Regions from separate parts of the Homo sapiens genome. Here region 1 is linked to region 2. Evidence: fine-mapped expression QTL. A gene starts in region 2. The other region holds a variant in brackets. All regions are shown on one strand. Distances are from middle to middle.

What was found. PIP is the estimated chance that this variant, and not a neighbour inherited with it, causes the effect.
Region 1: its variant is the best candidate, but not a certain one, in a credible set for the expression of CALML6 in liver (GTEx, PIP 0.57).

Annotation. Positions count from the first base shown.
Region 1 is chr1:1,799,475-1,803,858 of GRCh38, forward strand. The region is part of intron 7 of GNB1 (G protein subunit beta 1); the gene reads right to left. Among named protein-coding and RNA genes, the nearest start is that of NADK, 23 kb to the left of the region's middle. RefSeq lists an enhancer at 108-157. The variant A/G (reference allele first, on the strand shown) is at 2,306.
Region 2 is chr1:1,912,818-1,917,201 of GRCh38, forward strand. CALML6 (calmodulin like 6) reads left to right here and starts at 2,443. Exons shown (of 6, transcript NM_138705.4): 1 at 2,443-2,490; 2 at 2,868-2,918; 3 at 3,624-3,798; 4 at 3,935-4,079; 5 at 4,157-4,257; 6 at 4,330-4,384. The coding sequence starts at 2,464. The coding sequence ends at 4,376. RefSeq lists an enhancer at 1,264-1,950.

The DNA.
Region 1 (4,384 bases), 110 kb before region 2:
GACTGCTGAACATAGAGAACACCTTTCCAAAAAGGGTGCTGCGTCAGACAGAGCTGTGTGGTTTACAGGGTCAGTGTGAGCTGCCTGGCTGGACTCCCAGCGATGGCCAGGGGCTCCTATCTGTAGGCATTACCTTCTCACAGAAACAACTATAAGCACTGCACAAACTACAAAACGAAACACCTGAAAGCATGAAAACAGGAGCAGGTAGAAACTGGAGGAGTCTCCCCTGGGAGAAAAGAAAGGCAGGACATGGTTTGTTCTTAAGGAGCTTTCTCTGAGGAGGGGACTGTCTGTGACAACCCCAGGGCTACAGCCTCACACACAAGACCTGTGGCCAAGGTCTTCAAGAGCCAGTAGACAGATTACTGGGCAACCACAGCCAGAAAGCGAAAGGATAACAACTACAAAGAAGAAAGCCACAGAAAGGGAGTCCCAAACTACACACACGGCTGACCAGATATCCGACACCTGAAGTGCACAGGCATGCAGCCCAGCCAGCGCAGAAAAGCTGAACAGAGGTTTCTGCTGCTGCCACACAAGAAAGACAGAGATAGACTGCCTGATACAATGACACTAAACATCAGTTAGTTCTGGAGAATGTAACCGGACACAAAGTCTCTATGACACAACATTTACAATGTCCAGAATACAATTTGAAATTACTACATGTACTAAAAAAATAGCAAAATGTCACTCAGAATCCAGAGGAGAGATCCACAAGGACCAACCTCAGGAAGATGAGATGCTGGGATCAGCAGACAAGAACTCTAAAGGCAGCTATTAAACTCTCCTTGTGGATGCAAAATAAAACATGCTATTATACAAGGACAGGGAATCTCAGCAGGAAAATAAAAAATTTCTAAATAAAAGCAATAGAAACTCTACAACTGCAGAAGGAATATCTGACATAAAGAACCTGCTGGATAGCCTTAGTTTATCAGAGGTAACAAGTACATGAACTTGAATGGAAATAAAAAGGTTAAAAGCAAGTAAGTGGTGCTAACAACAACAAAAAGGAACAAATCTGAAGAAGTGGGAAAGTGATGAACAAACCCCAGCCCCCTGAGCCTCGGGGACAGCACAGATGCGTGTGTATTGCAGCACAGAGGGGCAGGGACTAAGGACAGAAGATGCATTTGAAGACATGGTCTAAAACTTCCCAAATTTGGTGAAAGACAAATTTATAGATTCAAGATGCCAAAGTGCAATAAATGCAAAGAAAATCACACCGAGGCACCTACGTGCAAACTGCTAAAAACCAAATCTTTAGATTGTTAAAAAAAAAAAAAAAAAAGAAAAATAAATTAAAAAAAGAGTCAACCCATAATTCTAGATATCCAGCAAAAATACCCTTCAAGAATAAAGGCAAAATATAAATCTTAGAGAAATGAACACTAAGTGCTTTGCTAGCAGCAGACCTGAGAACTGCATTAACCATGACTTGTTCCGGGTAGGGCTCCCGGCCGAAAGGACGCCCGCAGAAGGCGCCTTTGCAGGAGAGCGGGAAGGGCACTGGACATGGAAGATCTCTCTGGAGGGCAGAGTAGATTTACTTCATTCTTTTCTCTTTGAGACGGAGTCTCACTCTGTTACCCAGGCTGGAGGTGCAGTGGCGTGATCTCAGCTCACTGCAACCTCCGCTTCAGTTCAAGTAATTCTCCTGCTTCAGCCTCCTGAGCAGCTGGGACTACAAGCGCATGCCACCATGCTTGGCTAATTTTTTTATTTTTAGTAGACACGGGGTTTCGTCATGTTGGCTAGGCTGATCTCAAACTCCTGGCCTCAGGTGATCTGCTTGCCTCGGCCTCCCAAAGTGCTGGGATTACAGGCGTGAGCCAACCATGCCCAGCCTATTTCATGCTTTTCATATTTATTCACATTATAAGACCCCTAATTTCTTAAGAATGTTTAAAGTAAAGAATACAACAATGCATCATGGAGCTAATAACACACACAGGTGTGATGCATATGAAAACCACAAGAGTGAGCAAGGGCAGACAGCAGGCCCGTGTGGCTGTGAGTTCCTTACGTTTCCTATCAACTAGGACCAAGTTAACTAGAGGACCGCGAGACATTGGGAATGTACACTATAATCCCTAAAGACACCACTAAGACATCAGGCAAAATGGTTTACCTACAAAGCCCACAGACAAAGTAAAATAGATTTCTTTAAAAAATCAAGTAACCCAGGCCAGGCGTGGTGGCTCATGCCTGTAATCAAGTAACTCAAAGGAAGGTAGGAAGGGAACAACCAAAAAACAAAAATGAAGGGACAAAAAGGTGGCAAAGTAGCAGAGTTACA[A/G]TAAGAAATATAAATGTGCAAAAGCATATTCCAAAGGCGGGCAGAAAAAACCAAGACCCAACAATGATGCGAGGTCTGTAACAGACTATTTTCAAAGACACAGTTAAGCTGAAAGGACCCCCATGAAGGCAGGACTGACTACATTAGTATCAGAAAAAGCAGCGGTTCCCAACAAAGAGCATTATGAGTGAGAAAGAACAGTTCATCATGAGAGCAGGGTCACAGGGTCAATTAATCACAAAGAGACAACAAATGTAAAGGCATCTACTAAAAGAGCTCAAGATATCTGAAGCACAGATTGACAGAATTAACAGGAAAGTTAGAAAATCCATAATCATTTTAACAGCCCTGCATGAGCATTTCATAGAAAGACACAGAATATTTGAACATGCCAAAAATCTTGCTCTAATTAACATGTATGTAGAAAATCAGGCCGAGATACAACAAAAACACATATCATTCCCATGTGCACACAGCGCGGCCACCATGACAGACCATCAGCTCCATTAAAAACAAGCCTCAAATGTCAAAGGACTGAAATGATACCAAGTGTGTCTTTAAGCACAATGACATCTAATTAGAAATCAACAATAACTAAGAAAACTTCAGATATGTAAAAATTATACATCTAAATAACCTATAAGTCAAATAAGCACTCACAAGGATATTAAAAATTTCACATTGAATGATAATTAAAATACAATATAGGCTGGGAGTGGTGGCTCAAGCCTGTAATTCCAGCACTTTGGGAGGCCGAGGCAGGCAGATCACTTGCAGTCAGGAGTTCAAGACCAGCCTGACCAACATGGCAAAACCCCGTCTCTACTAAAAATACAAAAATTGGCCAGGCGTGGTGGTGCACGCCTGTAATCTACTCGGGAGGCTGAGGCAGGAGAATCGCTTGAACCCAGGGGGTTGAGGTTTCAGTGAGCTGAGATTGCACCACTGTACTACAGCCTGGGTGACAGAGCAGGACTCCATCTTAAAAAAAAAAAAAAAAGACAATATGAAACAAATGTGTGTGATGTGGCTAAAGCCATGCTTAGAGGGAAACTTAAAACTTTAAGTGATTCTATTTGAAAAGGAAGCAAACCAGTGGCCTACAGATCTACTTCAGGTAGCTGGAAAATTAAGAAGGCAACTCCAAAGTAAGCAGAAGGCAGAAAAGAACAGAGAACAGAAATCAACAACAGCAGCAGCATTATCTTTCAAAGGACAAGGTTAAACTTGTAATCTGGCCAAAATTAACTTATTTAACAGACTGCTTAATGGGTGTCAACTGTAGTACTAGTGACTCCATGAACTGATTTCTTTGGCTGCATGTGAAGTGGGCGGAGTGTTATCAAAAAGTACTGGGGCATAAAATGTCTGAGAACAAATAATACAGCCAGAGAGGTAAAATATTAGAATAGTACATCCTCTTTCAGCAAATGTATGCCTTTCATGATGAATTAGTGTCACAAGTAAATAAAATCTTGGTGAAATAATAGACTACCTAGCACTTACGGCCACAGGGCTCTATTATGCCTCATTTGCAGAGACAGGGTCTCGCTTTCGCCCAGCCTGGAGTGCAGTGGTGCAATCATAGCTCCCTGCAGCCTCAACCACCCAGGCTTGAGCCATCCTCCTGAGGAGCTGGGACCATAGTTGTGTGCCACTGTGCGTGGCTGTTTTTCATTTTTTGTAGAGAAGGGGTCTAGCTTTGTTGCCCCAGCTGGTCTCGAACCCCTGGCTCCAAGCTATCCTCCTACCTTGGCCTCCCAGAGTGTTGCAGTTACAGGCATGAGCCACCATGTCCAGCGCAAATCCACAGGTTTCTTACTGGTAAAGGCATATCAGGCTTGTTTTTAGTTTCATTTTCAGAAAACTTCTGGCCATTACTGTGACTTTTATTTGAACCAGTCTCATTTAATGATTCATAAGGCCGGGCGCAGCGGCTCACGCCTATAATCCCAGCACTTTGGGAGGCTAAGGCAGGCGGATCACAATGTCAGGAGTTCAAGACCAGCCTGGCCAATACAGCAAAACCCCGCCTCTACTAAAAATACAAAAATTAGCTGGGCGTGGTGGCGGACACCT
Region 2 (4,384 bases):
GAGGCTGAGGCAAGAGAATTGCTTGACCTGGGAGGCAGAGGTTGCAGTGAGCTGAGATCGCGCCACTGCACTCCAGCCTGGAGATAGAGCGGGACTCTGCCTCAAAAAAAAAAAAAAAAAAAAAGTCGAATTCTTTTTTTTTTTTTTGGAGATGGAGTCTCACTCTGTCACCCGGGCTGGGGTGCAGTGGCGCAATCTCGGCTCACTGCATCCTCCACCTCCCAGGTTCAAGCAATTCTCTGCCTCAGCCTCCTGAGTAGCTGGGATTACAGGCACCTGCCACCACGCCCGGCTAATTTTTTTATTTTTTTATTTTTTTTAGTAGAAACAGGGTGTAACCATCTTGGCCAGGCTGGTCTTGAACTCCTGACCTTGTGATCCACCCACCTCGGCCTCCCAAAGTGCTGGGATTACAGGCGTGAGCCACCACACCCGGCCCCCGGAGTCGAATTCTTAAAAACAGAAAGTAGAATAGTGATTGCCATAGGCTGGGGGGCGGGGGGTGGTGGAAGAGGGCAGATGCTGTTTAATGGGGGCGGGGGTCCGTTTTGCAAGGTGAAAGGTTCTAGAGATCTGCTGCATAACTGGGTACGGCCATGAACACAACTGCACTTGCACCTGAACGTGGCTGAGGCAGCATTCTAATTGTTACAGGGTTTTTCTCTTTTTCTGTTTTCTTTTCTTTTCTTTTTTTTTTTTGAGATGGAGTCTCGCTCTGTTGCCCAGGCTGGAGTGCAGTGGCGCGATCTCGCCTCACTGCAAGGTCTGCCTCCTGGGTTCACGCCATTCTCCTGCCTCAGCCTCCGGAGAAGCTGGGACTACAGGTGTCTACCACCACGCCTGGCTAATTTTTTTGTATTTTTTTTAGTACAGTCGGGGTTTCACTGTGTTAGCCAGGATGGTCTCGATCTCCTGACCTCGTGATCTGCCCGCCTCAGCCTCCCAAAGTGCTGGGATTACAGGCGTGAGCCACCGTGCCCAGCCTCTTTTTCTGTTTTCTTATGGAGAATAGCCCTTCGGTGATCAGAAGAGACACAAGAAGGAAAATAAAGATTGGATGAGTCTCAGGTCCTAGAGATACGGGGTATGTCCGAAGGCCACACAGAGGCTGGTCAGCATGAGGAGAGAGGGTTAGAGGGCGAGGACCTGTTCTGCTGCTTGTACTGGGTCTTGGATATGGGTAGAAGCCTAGATGGAGAGGAGAGAGGTTGATGGTGGTTGTGGCCATGTTGCCCCTTCCTACGGGCGGGGCGGGGGGTGTGCCCTCTGCTTTAAGTTGGGCTCCAGGGGTCACAGCTTTGAGTTTCACTCGTAAGCCCATCAGGATGTCTGGAACCTTCAGGGCTGTGGCCCAGGAATGTCAGACGCTGGAAGCCTGGGAACGGAGGAGGCAGAGCCTGCTGTCCACTGGCTGTGAGAGTTGTTGGGGTGGGGACTTGTCCAGGGCCACGAGGCCAGTGCAGTTCTCTGTGTCTCTGTACCCAGCTGGCCTGTACCTGGAGACCCTGAGCCAGAACCCAGGATGGGCCCTGGCCTGGGTGCTGCGGCTCCCTCCATTCTATGCCCCTGGGGGAAGGTGCTCAGTGCGTGAATTGTTCCCTGCCCCAGCCCAGGGGAAAGCTGAGGCCAGGGAGCAGCCAGGATGAAGGTCAGGGCCTCCCTTGGCCCCACCAGACCCAGGGCCGCTTCCCTCCAGCCCCGGCTCCCGTTTGGCTGGAGGTGCCCTGGGCCATTGGCCTGCCCTCGTCAGCGTCAATCTTGCAGTCTCAGCAGCTGGCCTGGGTTTCAGCGGGAGCCATCCTGTAGCTGCAGGTTTGCTGGCAGGCAGAGGGTTGGGCTGGCGGGGGACACTGAGTGCCCCACCTGCTCAGACTCTTCATGCCATCAAGGGGCCAGTCGGGGGGCAGGTGTGAGTGTGACCCTGAGGGCCCTGACCTGCCACTGCAATCCTCACACTCTTGCCTGGGTGGGGCAGGGAGGAGCTGGACCCTGGCTTTGGGAGTCTGGTGGGTAATTAGACCCAGACAGGGAGGGCTCAGTGCGGGTCTGAGGAGGGAACACACGTGTGCAGGCGTGTGCTCCACGGTGGCATGTTGATACGGACCAGCCTGGGCACCAGGCCCCCTCGGGAGCCAGCTTTGCTGTTCTGAGTGGAAGGGAGATCAGGTTTCCCTGAGAAACCCCAAAATAGCCCCCAACTGTGCCTGGCTTCCAGCGGGCAGCCCAGCCCCCAGGCCCTGTTTTGCTCCCTTTCCCCCTTCACCCCCAGCCCATGTCCTGCTGTCTCCTCCCTGAATGGTGGACCCTCAGCCCCTCCTGTACAAGATGGTCAAGCGGTGCCTCATGCATTTGTTCATTCGACCTGTCCTGAGAGTTTGTGACATGCTGGCACGGGGCCAATGTTGAGTCCACCAGGATGGGAGGGTGGCCAGGCTCTGAGCCACTGAGCACCAGCTGGCCAGGATGGGTCTTCAACAAGAAATCTCACTGGTAAGTGATGACAGCATGGGACCAGGGTCCCATGAAGACCTGCTGGAGGGCCGCACCTCTGGGAAGGTAGACTTGGAGCTTGGTCCAGTGAAGAGGGAACAGCACGGGGAACAGCGTGTGTGAGGGTCCCGCCATGTCTCAGCCCTTTCCTGGCCCCCGCACTTAGCCTTCGGTGCCCATCTTCAGGGTCAGGGGAAGCCCAGGCCAAAGCGGGCCGGGAAGGGGCCCTGTGGATAAGGCCGAGAGCCTGTCCCAAAATAGGGCCGGCAGGATTTCCCACCCATAAAAGGCTCTTGGAATCTGGACCCCGGGGACCCCAGGCAGCCAGGCCCAGCTAAAACTCAGCTGCCACCACTGCCCCAGCACTCTGCCCACAGCAGCCCTGGTGTCACCACCCTGCAGAATCCTGTCAGACAACCACCGACATGGTAAGGCTGCTCTCTGTGCCCGATGGAGTCTCTGGTGGGCTGGCTGGGTAGGTTGAGCTGGAACCTGGAGGTGCAATGACCTGCCACGGAGCCTGGGCAGGAAGGGGCTGAGGTAGAAGAGGGGGCCAAGCCCTGCTGCCACCAACACAGCCCTTGTTCCGGGGCCAGGGTGGAGCAGCCCTTTCTGAAAGCTGGCTCCCAGATGGGCAGCAGCAGTGGTGGCAGGCAGGTGTGGCCCGGTGCTGGACTCTCCCTCCGGAATGCCACACAGGCTGGAGCCCAGGGTTCTGCTTCCTGGGCTGTATCCCAATCCTGGGCTGGAAGCCTTTCCCGGGCCAGGGCTGGGCTCCTCCCCACCCTGCTCTCGGCTTCCTTCACCTGCCTCACCTGGTGTCCATTGCCAGGCTCCAGGGCCGCTGCCTGGCCCGCCTGGCCCTGCAGCTGCTGCTGTTCCCTCGCACGCTGGCTCCTGCCTGTCTGGCCCTTGCCCCTGTTAGCTGCCTGGCAGAGCCCTGCTGGCCCTGCAAACCCCTGGCGTGTGACCCCTTGTCCTGGAAGCCTGCTCTCCGCTGGGGGCCTCCTCTCTTACCACTCACCTTGAAAGGCTGCCAATGGAGGAATGGGTGCAGGGGGTACCTCTGACCCTTCCCTGGACACAGGGGCAGAAGGGGCTCCTGGTCAGGCCGGTGCGGGTGTCCCCTGCAGACAGAGCGCCTGTCGGCTGAGCAGATCAAGGAGTACAAGGGAGTCTTTGAGATGTTCGACGAAGAGGGCAACGGGGAGGTGAAGACGGGGGAGCTGGAGTGGCTCATGAGCCTGCTGGGTATCAACCCCACCAAGAGTGAGCTGGCCTCAATGGCCAAGGATGTGGACAGAGACAGTGAGCTCATGGCTGGAGTGGGGTGGGCAGCCTCGGGGGGGCCCTGGGTCAGGTGTCAGTGCCTACGGGGGGAAGAGGCAAAGCCCATGGGGAGTGCTGTGCCCCATCCCTTGAGCCCCAGCTGTGCCCCTTGCAGACAAAGGGTTCTTCAACTGCGATGGTTTCCTGGCACTAATGGGAGTTTACCATGAGAAGGCCCAGAACCAGGAGAGCGAGCTGAGGGCGGCATTCCGTGTCTTTGACAAAGAGGGCAAGGGCTACATTGACTGGAACACACTCAAGTAGGGCCCGGGTTGGGGGCGGGTGGTGGGCGGGCACGGGCAGGGCCGATGGAGTGGCTCAGCGCCAGGCCCCGTAGGTACGTGCTAATGAACGCAGGGGAGCCCCTCAACGAGGTGGAGGCGGAGCAGATGATGAAGGAGGCCGACAAGGATGGGGACAGGACCATCGACTATGAGGGTGAGTGGCCTGGAGCCCTGGGAGCCGTTGGCTGGGCCGGGGCAAGCTGCTGACCTGCCCCTCTGTTCCCAGAGTTTGTGGCCATGATGACGGGGGAGTCCTTCAAGCTGATCCAGTAGGTGCAGCT